Homo sapiens: one gene and its partner. The protein of the gene in region 1 purifies or fractionates together with the protein of each later gene. This does not show direct contact. Each region holds a gene or a part of one and is shown on either strand. Other genes may lie near its edges.

Region 1 (4,469 bases):
CATCTGCAGGGGTAACTTTTTCCAGGGACTACTGGAAAGGAGAGCCGGCCTGGCTCCTAGCCGGACACCACCTGGCGGAAGCTGGAGCCCGCCCTTACTTCCCTGCAACCTGAGGATGCTGAGGCCAAGGGCGGGTGACGGGGCAGAAAGCAAAGCCCTGGTTGCAGAAAGGCATGCAAATATGAACCCAGGTGTCTGGTGCGCCGGGAGCCCCGGCGACGTTAGGAGCGCACTCCTTGCTGGGGTCACCGGAGTTGCGCTTGGCCGGGCAAGGATGACTCAGCCTCACTCCGGTCGGTCTTTACCGCCAGCCTGCGCGAGGGCTCCACAAAGTTCCCAATCACACCCCATACCTCGCACGGGGGAGAGGGGTTCTGCAAGCTGGGTCCCGGGGTGGGGGCAGCGGCGAGAGAGGCGGGGAGAAGCCTGGTTCCCAGAACGCGCAGGGGCTTCTCCGGCTTCCTTTCTCCTCGCCCCTGAGGGCGGCGAGAAGGCGCCTCCTCCGGCGCTCACTGCCTCCTGCCCAGTGCGGTGGGCGCCGGAGTGGGGAGCAGGCAATCCCCCAGGCTCGGAGAAATCTTTTATCCCGAAATCCAGGGTGTCCCCCGGTCAGGATCGACTCGGCGCCGCGTTGGCTTCCTCGCTCAACCCTGACATCCCGGTCCCCACCAGTCACCGCAGCCGGGCGGACTCCGAAGGCAGCGGCCGCTGGGGAGCCCCGGGGCCTGGGTCGGGCGCGCAGGGGGCCGCTGCGCTGCGGCCGGATGCCGGGAGCCCCGCGCTGGTGCGCCCAAGCCGTGGTGGCAGCACCGCCCTCCGTGCTTTCCCCTGTCGGGCGCCGCGGCCGGAGGAGCAGCTGCGGGCGGTCACGCAGCGCTGCCCTAGCCAGAGCCCCGAGCTCCCACCCAGTCCCATCCCCAGCCCGATCCGCCCCGCGTGCGATCCCGCCTGCCGCCGCGAGCCTGTGCTCCTTTCTGAGATTTCTGCTTCTTCCCCAGCTCCCTCCCCGCAGGAGAATCGCGCGGCGGGGGCGGAGGGCGCGCCCCCTTTAGGTTCCGCGGCCCCCGACCCCGCCCGGCCCAGGGGCGGAGCGGGCATGCTACGCCCTCTCCTAGCAGCCGCCCGCAAAGTGCGGAGCGCCGCGCCCTGCCCTCGGCTTCCCTCCCGCGCCCCCAACCCCCACCCTGGCTAGGGTCGCCCGGCCCGGGGCCAGCCCCAGAGTCGCGCCCGCGGTGGCGGACTGCGGAGTTGTAAAGAACTCAGCGGCCGCAGTAGCCCGGGTGGGGCAGGGCGCGCTCCGCCGCGGCCAAGGACACTGGAGTTTCCGAGTCCCCGCCCGCGCGGCGCCTCCTGCCCCGCCGCCCTCCCGCCGCGGCCCGCCGGACTCCCCGGGGCCGCCGAGGCGGGGCCGGGCGGCTGCTGCTGCTAGAGGCGCGTCTCGCTGCCTCCTCCCCCGCCCGCCTCCCTCCCCACCTCTCCTCCCTCCCTCCCCACCTCTCCTCCCTCCCTCTCCTCTCCGCCCTCCCCGCCCCCCCCACCCGCTCCTTTTTCTGCTCCCCAAGTGAGCCGGGCGCGCGAGAGGCAGGCGGGGCGGCGCGGAGCGGAGCAGGCAGCCCCGCGCGCTCGCCCACCGCCCGCTCCGCGCAGCTCCCCGCGGCCGCTCTCGTCGCCGCCGCAGCGGGCGCGTCGGAGGGAGCCCAGCATGGCCGGGCCGGGCTCGCCGCGCCGCGCGTCCCGGGGGGCCTCGGCGCTTCTCGCTGCCGCGCTTCTCTACGCCGCGCTGGGGGACGTGGTGCGCTCGGAGCAGCAGATACCGCTCTCCGTGTAAGTGCCGGCTCCTGCGCCGCCCGGGGAGGGGACCTTGCCGCCTGCGACCCACTGTGCCCAAGTTTGGGCGCCTGCAGGTGCGGCTGGGCAGGACCCGCCGCGGGCGTCGGCCTCGCCGCTCGCACCTGCCTTTCGGGACCCGCGTCGGGCGGCGAGGCCGGGGTGGGATGCTCTGGCCCCTGCCCGCAGGTTGCCGAGTGAGATCTGGAGAGGCTCACCTCAAGTGACGGCACCAACTTTGGAGCCTGGTTACCGAATCCAACTTCCATGGGCCGCTGAATTTCCCCCCTCTTTGCTCTACTGCCGCCCCACTTCTTTTTTTGGGGGGGGGATGGGTGGATTTCTTCTGACTGCTATTTGCCAGGTGATGCCCAGTTTGGGGGGTCGAGTCCTCGGGCAGTGGTTCGAATGAAACTCAGTGGTCTTTTTAGAGAGCCTGGGAGACTTTGCGCATTCTTAACTCCGCGACCCCCCTCGGGCCCCCTCCCGCGCTGCGCTTTGCAGTTTTGGTGCTGGCAGTTTCTACCAAGCCGCTTTTTCTATCTTTTCTTCTTTTAAAACATGTTACATCGCACTGCTCCTTCAGCCATAGTCCCATGTGTGCGTGTGCGTGTGCGTGCGTGTTGACTGTGACACGGGTGTTACATATCTTCCTGTGCCCCTTCTCCCTGTAGGGTGAAGCTCTGGGCCTCGGCTTTTGGTGGGGAGATAAAATCCATTGCTGCTAAGTACTCCGGTTCCCAGCTTCTGCAAAAGGTAAGGTTTCTGTGGTGGCAGGAAGCGATGATTTTTCCGGCACAGAAAATGGAGGCAGATTTAGTTTTCCAAACAAACGTGAGCCCCGAGCAGCATCAGTTATCGGAGGACTCTCTGATCCCCGGGTTTCTTGGCATTGTACTATGCAGTGACTTCTTCCTACCAACCGGTTATTTTTAGATGACACTTGATTCTAACCACAAAGAAAAGCAGGATACTCACTCGCACTGTCCTGGCTGGGGCTCGGAAACTGAGTGTTTTTGCATGGCTCTCGTCTCCGTGTCGGTATTGCTGTTTCAGTGCCAGAGCAGATGCTCCTCGGGCCAAAAAATGCTAACTTCATCCAAGGGGCAGACTCAGTGCCTATTTTGTGATGCCTTTCACCTTGCGTTGGAGGCGTGGGGTTCAGTGTATCAGAGAAAGACGCTGCACTATTGTTTGTCATCCCTGCAGTTGTACAATCCCATTATTCCCCAATCATCTAGACCCAGGGCTAGGATGCATTACATCATTGCAGATAAGGAGAATGAATGTGGTTATCTTTCCACTCAGCTGCACTGCCGGGTAATAACCTATGAGAGTAGTCCACAAACTTAAGAAATGGGTCTGCATCCATGTAATTCTGGAGAGTAATGAGAATGGAGAATTGATTATTAGGTTCTTATCACAAGCTGCATCAATTTTAATTCAAATAGGCAGCATTTTAAGCATAAGCTTAAAATTACATTGTGAGATAAATGGTCCTTCGTTCTCCCCTTCAGGAAATAAAGAAAAAAAAATGGGTCTGGGAGGAGAGATTAGAGGGGTTCAAAGAATTTCAAGTTAGCAGATCAACAGGATTAATCAAAGTATTCTCTTGATGATAGAAAATAAAATTGGCCTTTAGGGAATAATTCTCTGAAAATGGGTACAAACAGCTTAAATTGTTAAGTTAACTTTTAAACATTTTAAAATATGATTTTTGGGCCAATGTACCATATGTGTTATGCATGCTGCCTGGTAACCAAGTACGTATTTTATTTATGGCATTCCCCTTCAGAGAGTAGCATTTTTGGGGACAGTATATGAAACAGTTTGCCACATGAAATCCAAATATCGTAATAAAGCGTTGGCCCACCATGGAATGACAAAAGTTATTATGGTTTAAAAATCGCCAATAGCCTTATTCATTGAAACCTTATTCATTGAAAGATTGCTTGCTCAACTCTGTTGTTTGGGAAGGTGTTCTTGAATTATAGGCAGTTGGTAAACAGTTGAGGCTACGAAATGCCCTCGTGGAAGATGAGAATTTACATACCTGTGGCCCACCTCGGCACTTAAAGGAATTGCATAGGAATTGCCTCTTTCCCTAGTATTCTTTTAATCTGGACCAATCTGTCTCCTGCTTTGGCATTTTGCCCACTTGTCAGATGTTTGATGTGATGAATTCTGGACTGTAGCATTGCCTTTATATTTTTCTTATGCTTTTAAAGAAGATAACATTTTGTATAACTTTAAAGAAGTATTTCTCATCTGCACGTTGTAGTTGTAGCAACTCTAAAAGAATCCCTTCAGAGCCTGTTAATATTTTTTGGTTGTGCTTTCATATCTTTTATCCCACATTTTCTAGGAACACATTAAATATGTTTTTTTCTTTCTCTTTGAAGTTACACACACACACACACACACACACACACACACTGCACAAAACTCCGTCAACCTTATTATTTGCTACTCTATAACAGCAAATTGGAAAAGGCTGAAATGCTTCTCTTACCTTCTCATCAGCATCCTTTCTGATATTGAATTCACTAGCTTTGCTTTGCTTTTGTCATGTTTGCAGCTTGACAATTGTGTAATTATTTCCAGCTGTTTATGGCTTTGTTATCATTTCTTGCTGCTGCCTG
Region 2 (3,698 bases), on another chromosome or scaffold:
AGCTTGCAGTGAGGCGAGATGGCGCCACTGCACTCCAGCCTGGGAAACAGAGCCAGACTCGTCTTAAAAAAAAAAAAAAAAAAAAATCAAGATCTGATAAAGGACTTGCATTCAGAATATATCTTTTTTAACTTGTAAGAACAAGACAACCCAATTAAAAGAAGTAAAAGATCTGAATAGACACTTCTCCAAAGAAGATATACAAATGGCCAATAAGCACCGGAAGATGCTCAGCATCTTATGTCACTAGAGAAATGATCTAACTTGGATGAGATTAATTTGGATATGAGTGGTCCACTAGAATGGCCATAATTATAAAGGCAGACTATAAGCACTGCAAAAGATGTGGAGAAACTATAACCCTCCTACATTGCTAGTTAGAACATAAAATTATAGTCACTTTGAAAATAGTTCATAAGTTTCTTAAAAAATTAATCCAAACACTTGCATGACAATGTTTTGGGTGATGGAAATGTTCTAAAATCTAATTGTGGTGATGATTACACACACAACATCTTTCAACTCTACATTTAAAATGAATTTTATCATATGTAAATTATACCTCAACAAATATGTAAAAAAATTTAAGACAGATAAGACTTTATCAATATTTTATACGTGTATGTATGTACATACAGAGAGGGAGACAGAACAGGTTTGGGGCAATAAAAAACGGGCAGAATGATAACAACTGGTAAATCTGGATGCAGGGTATATGAGACATCCATGTATTATGCTGGCAACATTTCTGCCAGTTTGAAATTACATTAAGATTTAAGATTATCAACCAAAAGGTCAAGAATATAATGTAACAAGCTTCCTGTAACAATATCTATCTTTTTTCAATGAAGACCATATACAGCTTAAATTATTAGGAAATTGTAGATAATTTTAATGAAGTCAACGTCAAGAATATAATCTGGTTGTAATACCAATACAATGTGTTCTAAAATAATTTTTCTATTGAGTTAAATATTCATCTGTAGATCCTATAACAGCATGTTCATATTCACAAAATCTGAATGAAAAGTAAACACAACTTGGCATTTCTGACGCAGGGTAACACAAAGTTCACTTCGGAGGGGACTGAGATTTTTGTTTAATTTTGCTTTTGAAACCAAGCACAGTTATAGTCAAAATGAGGGACATTATTCAGAATGAGGTTATGTATTTATTTAACAAAATACTGCTTCTCTGAAGTACATTTCATTAGGGAGAGTGACAGTAATGCTAAAAAAAAGAACATGAAAATGCACACAGCATTTCTGAAAGGTTATAATAATTTATTTAATTTTTTTTTGAGACAGAGTCTCACTCTGTCACCCAGGCTGGAGTGCAGTGGCTCCTGTGATCTTGGCTCACTGCAACCTCCACCTCCTGGGTTCAAGCAATTCTCGTGCCTCAGCCTCTCAAGTAGCTGGGATTCCAGGCATGCACCCCACACCTGGCTATTTTTTTTTGTATTTAAATTTATTTTAATTTTTTTTTGAGGCAGAGTCTTGCTCTGTTGCCCAGGCTGGAGTGCAGTGGCATGATCTCAGCTCACTGCAACCTCCATCTCCCAGGCTCAAGCAATTCTCCTGCCTTGGCCCCCAGAGTAGCTGGGATTATAAGCACCTGCCACCATGCCCAGGTAATTTTTGCATGTTTAGTAGAGATGGGGTTTCACCATGTTGGCCAGGCTGGTCTCAAACTCTTGACCTCAGGTGATTTGCCCGCCTTGGCCTCTGAAAAGTGCTGGGATTACAGGCGTGAGCAACCGCGCCCAGCCCTATTTTTTTGTATTTTAGTAGAGACAGCGTTTCACCACGTTGGCCAGGCTGGTCTCGAACTCCTGGCCTCAAGCAATCCACCCGCCTCAGCCTCCAAAAGTGCTGGGATTACAGATGTGAGCCATGGCACCATGCCAAAAGGCTATATTCCTGGCTCTGTGTTTCCGAGACTGCTTTTAATCCCAACTTCTCTACATTTAGATTAAAAAATATTTTATTCATGGTCAATCTGGAACATAATTACTGCATCTTAAGTTTCCACTGATGTATATAGAAGGCTAAAGGCACAATTTTTATCAAATCTAGTAGAGTAACCAAACATAAAATCATTAATTACTTTCAACTTAATAACTAATTGACATTCCTCAAAAGAGCTGTTTTCAATCCTGATAGTTCTTTATTTTTTCAAAATATATTTGCCATGGGATGCTAATTTGCAATAGGTGTCATAATGAGAATAACCCAAACTGGATAAATGTGACAAATGATTGACAAAGCATTTCACACCCTTCAATTACACCACATCAAGAATGAGGGGAAAGCGTTGTAAAAGTAGACTACTGCAATGCTACTTGTATTCTTGCAATAAAACCAGCAAGCATCCATATCAAGAGAGTTATCATCTCACTTCCAACTTTTTCCCCTCAAGAACAATTTGAATCTCTTTGGCATCCAAAGTCTCATAGGTCAATAAAGCTTCTGCGAGATTCTTATGCTCCTTTGCATGAGTTTTCAAGATATGTTTTGCTCGTTCATATGAGTCCTGAAACAGAAAAGGAGATACGTAAGCAGCAGCAAATGCAGGGATGCGAAAACCAGTCAATGGGAAGAGAAAGAAAAACTTTATGTACCCTAAAAAATATGAAATCTGTTTATATTTATAAAATCATGTAGAATCTTGATTCTACAGTAGAGATAATTTGTGCATTATAACATAGTAAGGAAAAGAGAATAAACACCTGAGAAGGCAGAGACCACCTCTTCTATAACACTCTCTAAACCTTTCCATCATACAAACTTTCTGTATCCTTAACTACTCTAAAGCATTCCCTCTACTTCCTTGAAATAATCAAACCCATGGTCCCTCCTGTGGAGAATGCATTCCCTAAGCCCTCTCAAGTGCTATTTGTTCATGTTTACCCTAGTTACTTCACAGTAAACAGCTGAGCTCATTGTTCCCATTACCTCTTTCAGACCATTACTAACCTACCCTCTTATATAATGCACTCTTCCTATTCTGTTGAAGTCCAGGCCATTTGACTATGGAGCTATCCAACCGTCTTCATTGTGCCATCTGACAAACATAGTCCTTACTCACTAAAGACTTTGGCACTCAGCTCTGTCACTCTCTCTCTCTCTATTTTTTTTTCAGTCTCACTGTTGCTTAGGCTGGAGTGAAGTCAGGCAATCACAACTCACTACGGCCTCAACCTCCCTGGGCTCAGGTGATCCTCCCACCTCAGCCCAAGTAGCTGGGACTACAGGCATGAACCACCATGCCCAGCTAATTTTTCTATGTTTTGTAGAGATGAGGTTTTGCCATGTTGCCCAGGCTGGTCAGTCTTACCCTTAAAACCTGCCTGGCTGGGTGCGGTGGCTCACACCTGTAATCCCAGCACTTTGGGAGGCCAAGGCAGGTGGATCGTTTGAGCCCAGGAGTTCGACACCAGCCTGGGTAACATAGTGAAATGCTCTCTACAAAAAATAACAAAATTAGCTAGGCATGGCAGCATGCGCTTATAGTCCCAGCTACTCAGGAGGCTGAGGTGGGAGGATCACTTGAGCTTGGGAGACAGAGGTTGCAATGAGCCAAGATCACAGCACTGCACTCCAGCCTGGGTGACAGGGCAAGATGCTGTCTCAAAAAAAAAAAAAAAAAAAAAAAAAAAAAAAAAAAAAAAAAAAAGACCTGCCTTCATGAATGGG

Evidence for each region.
Region 2: the proteins of CACNA2D3 (region 1) and YME1L1 purify together in Homo sapiens (affinity purification with mass spectrometry, with the first as the bait; one large-scale study listed by BioGRID). This does not show direct contact.

The regions. Positions count from the first base shown.
Region 1 is NC_000003.12:54,121,012-54,125,480, forward strand, and holds the start of CACNA2D3 (voltage-dependent calcium channel subunit alpha-2/delta-3 precursor), read left to right. Parts: upstream 1-1,540; 5' UTR 1,541-1,702; coding exon 1,703-1,824; intron 1,825-2,045; exon of another isoform or gene 2,046-2,431; intron 2,432-2,501; coding exon 2,502-2,583; intron 2,584-4,469. UniProt on the Homo sapiens protein: The alpha-2/delta subunit of voltage-dependent calcium channels regulates calcium current density and activation/inactivation kinetics of the calcium channel.
Region 2 is NC_000010.11:27,109,586-27,113,283, forward strand, and holds the end of YME1L1 (ATP-dependent zinc metalloprotease YME1L1), read right to left. Parts: intron 2,536-3,698; coding exon 2,392-2,535; 3' UTR 526-2,391; downstream 1-525. UniProt on the Homo sapiens protein: ATP-dependent metalloprotease that catalyzes the degradation of folded and unfolded proteins with a suitable degron sequence in the mitochondrial intermembrane region.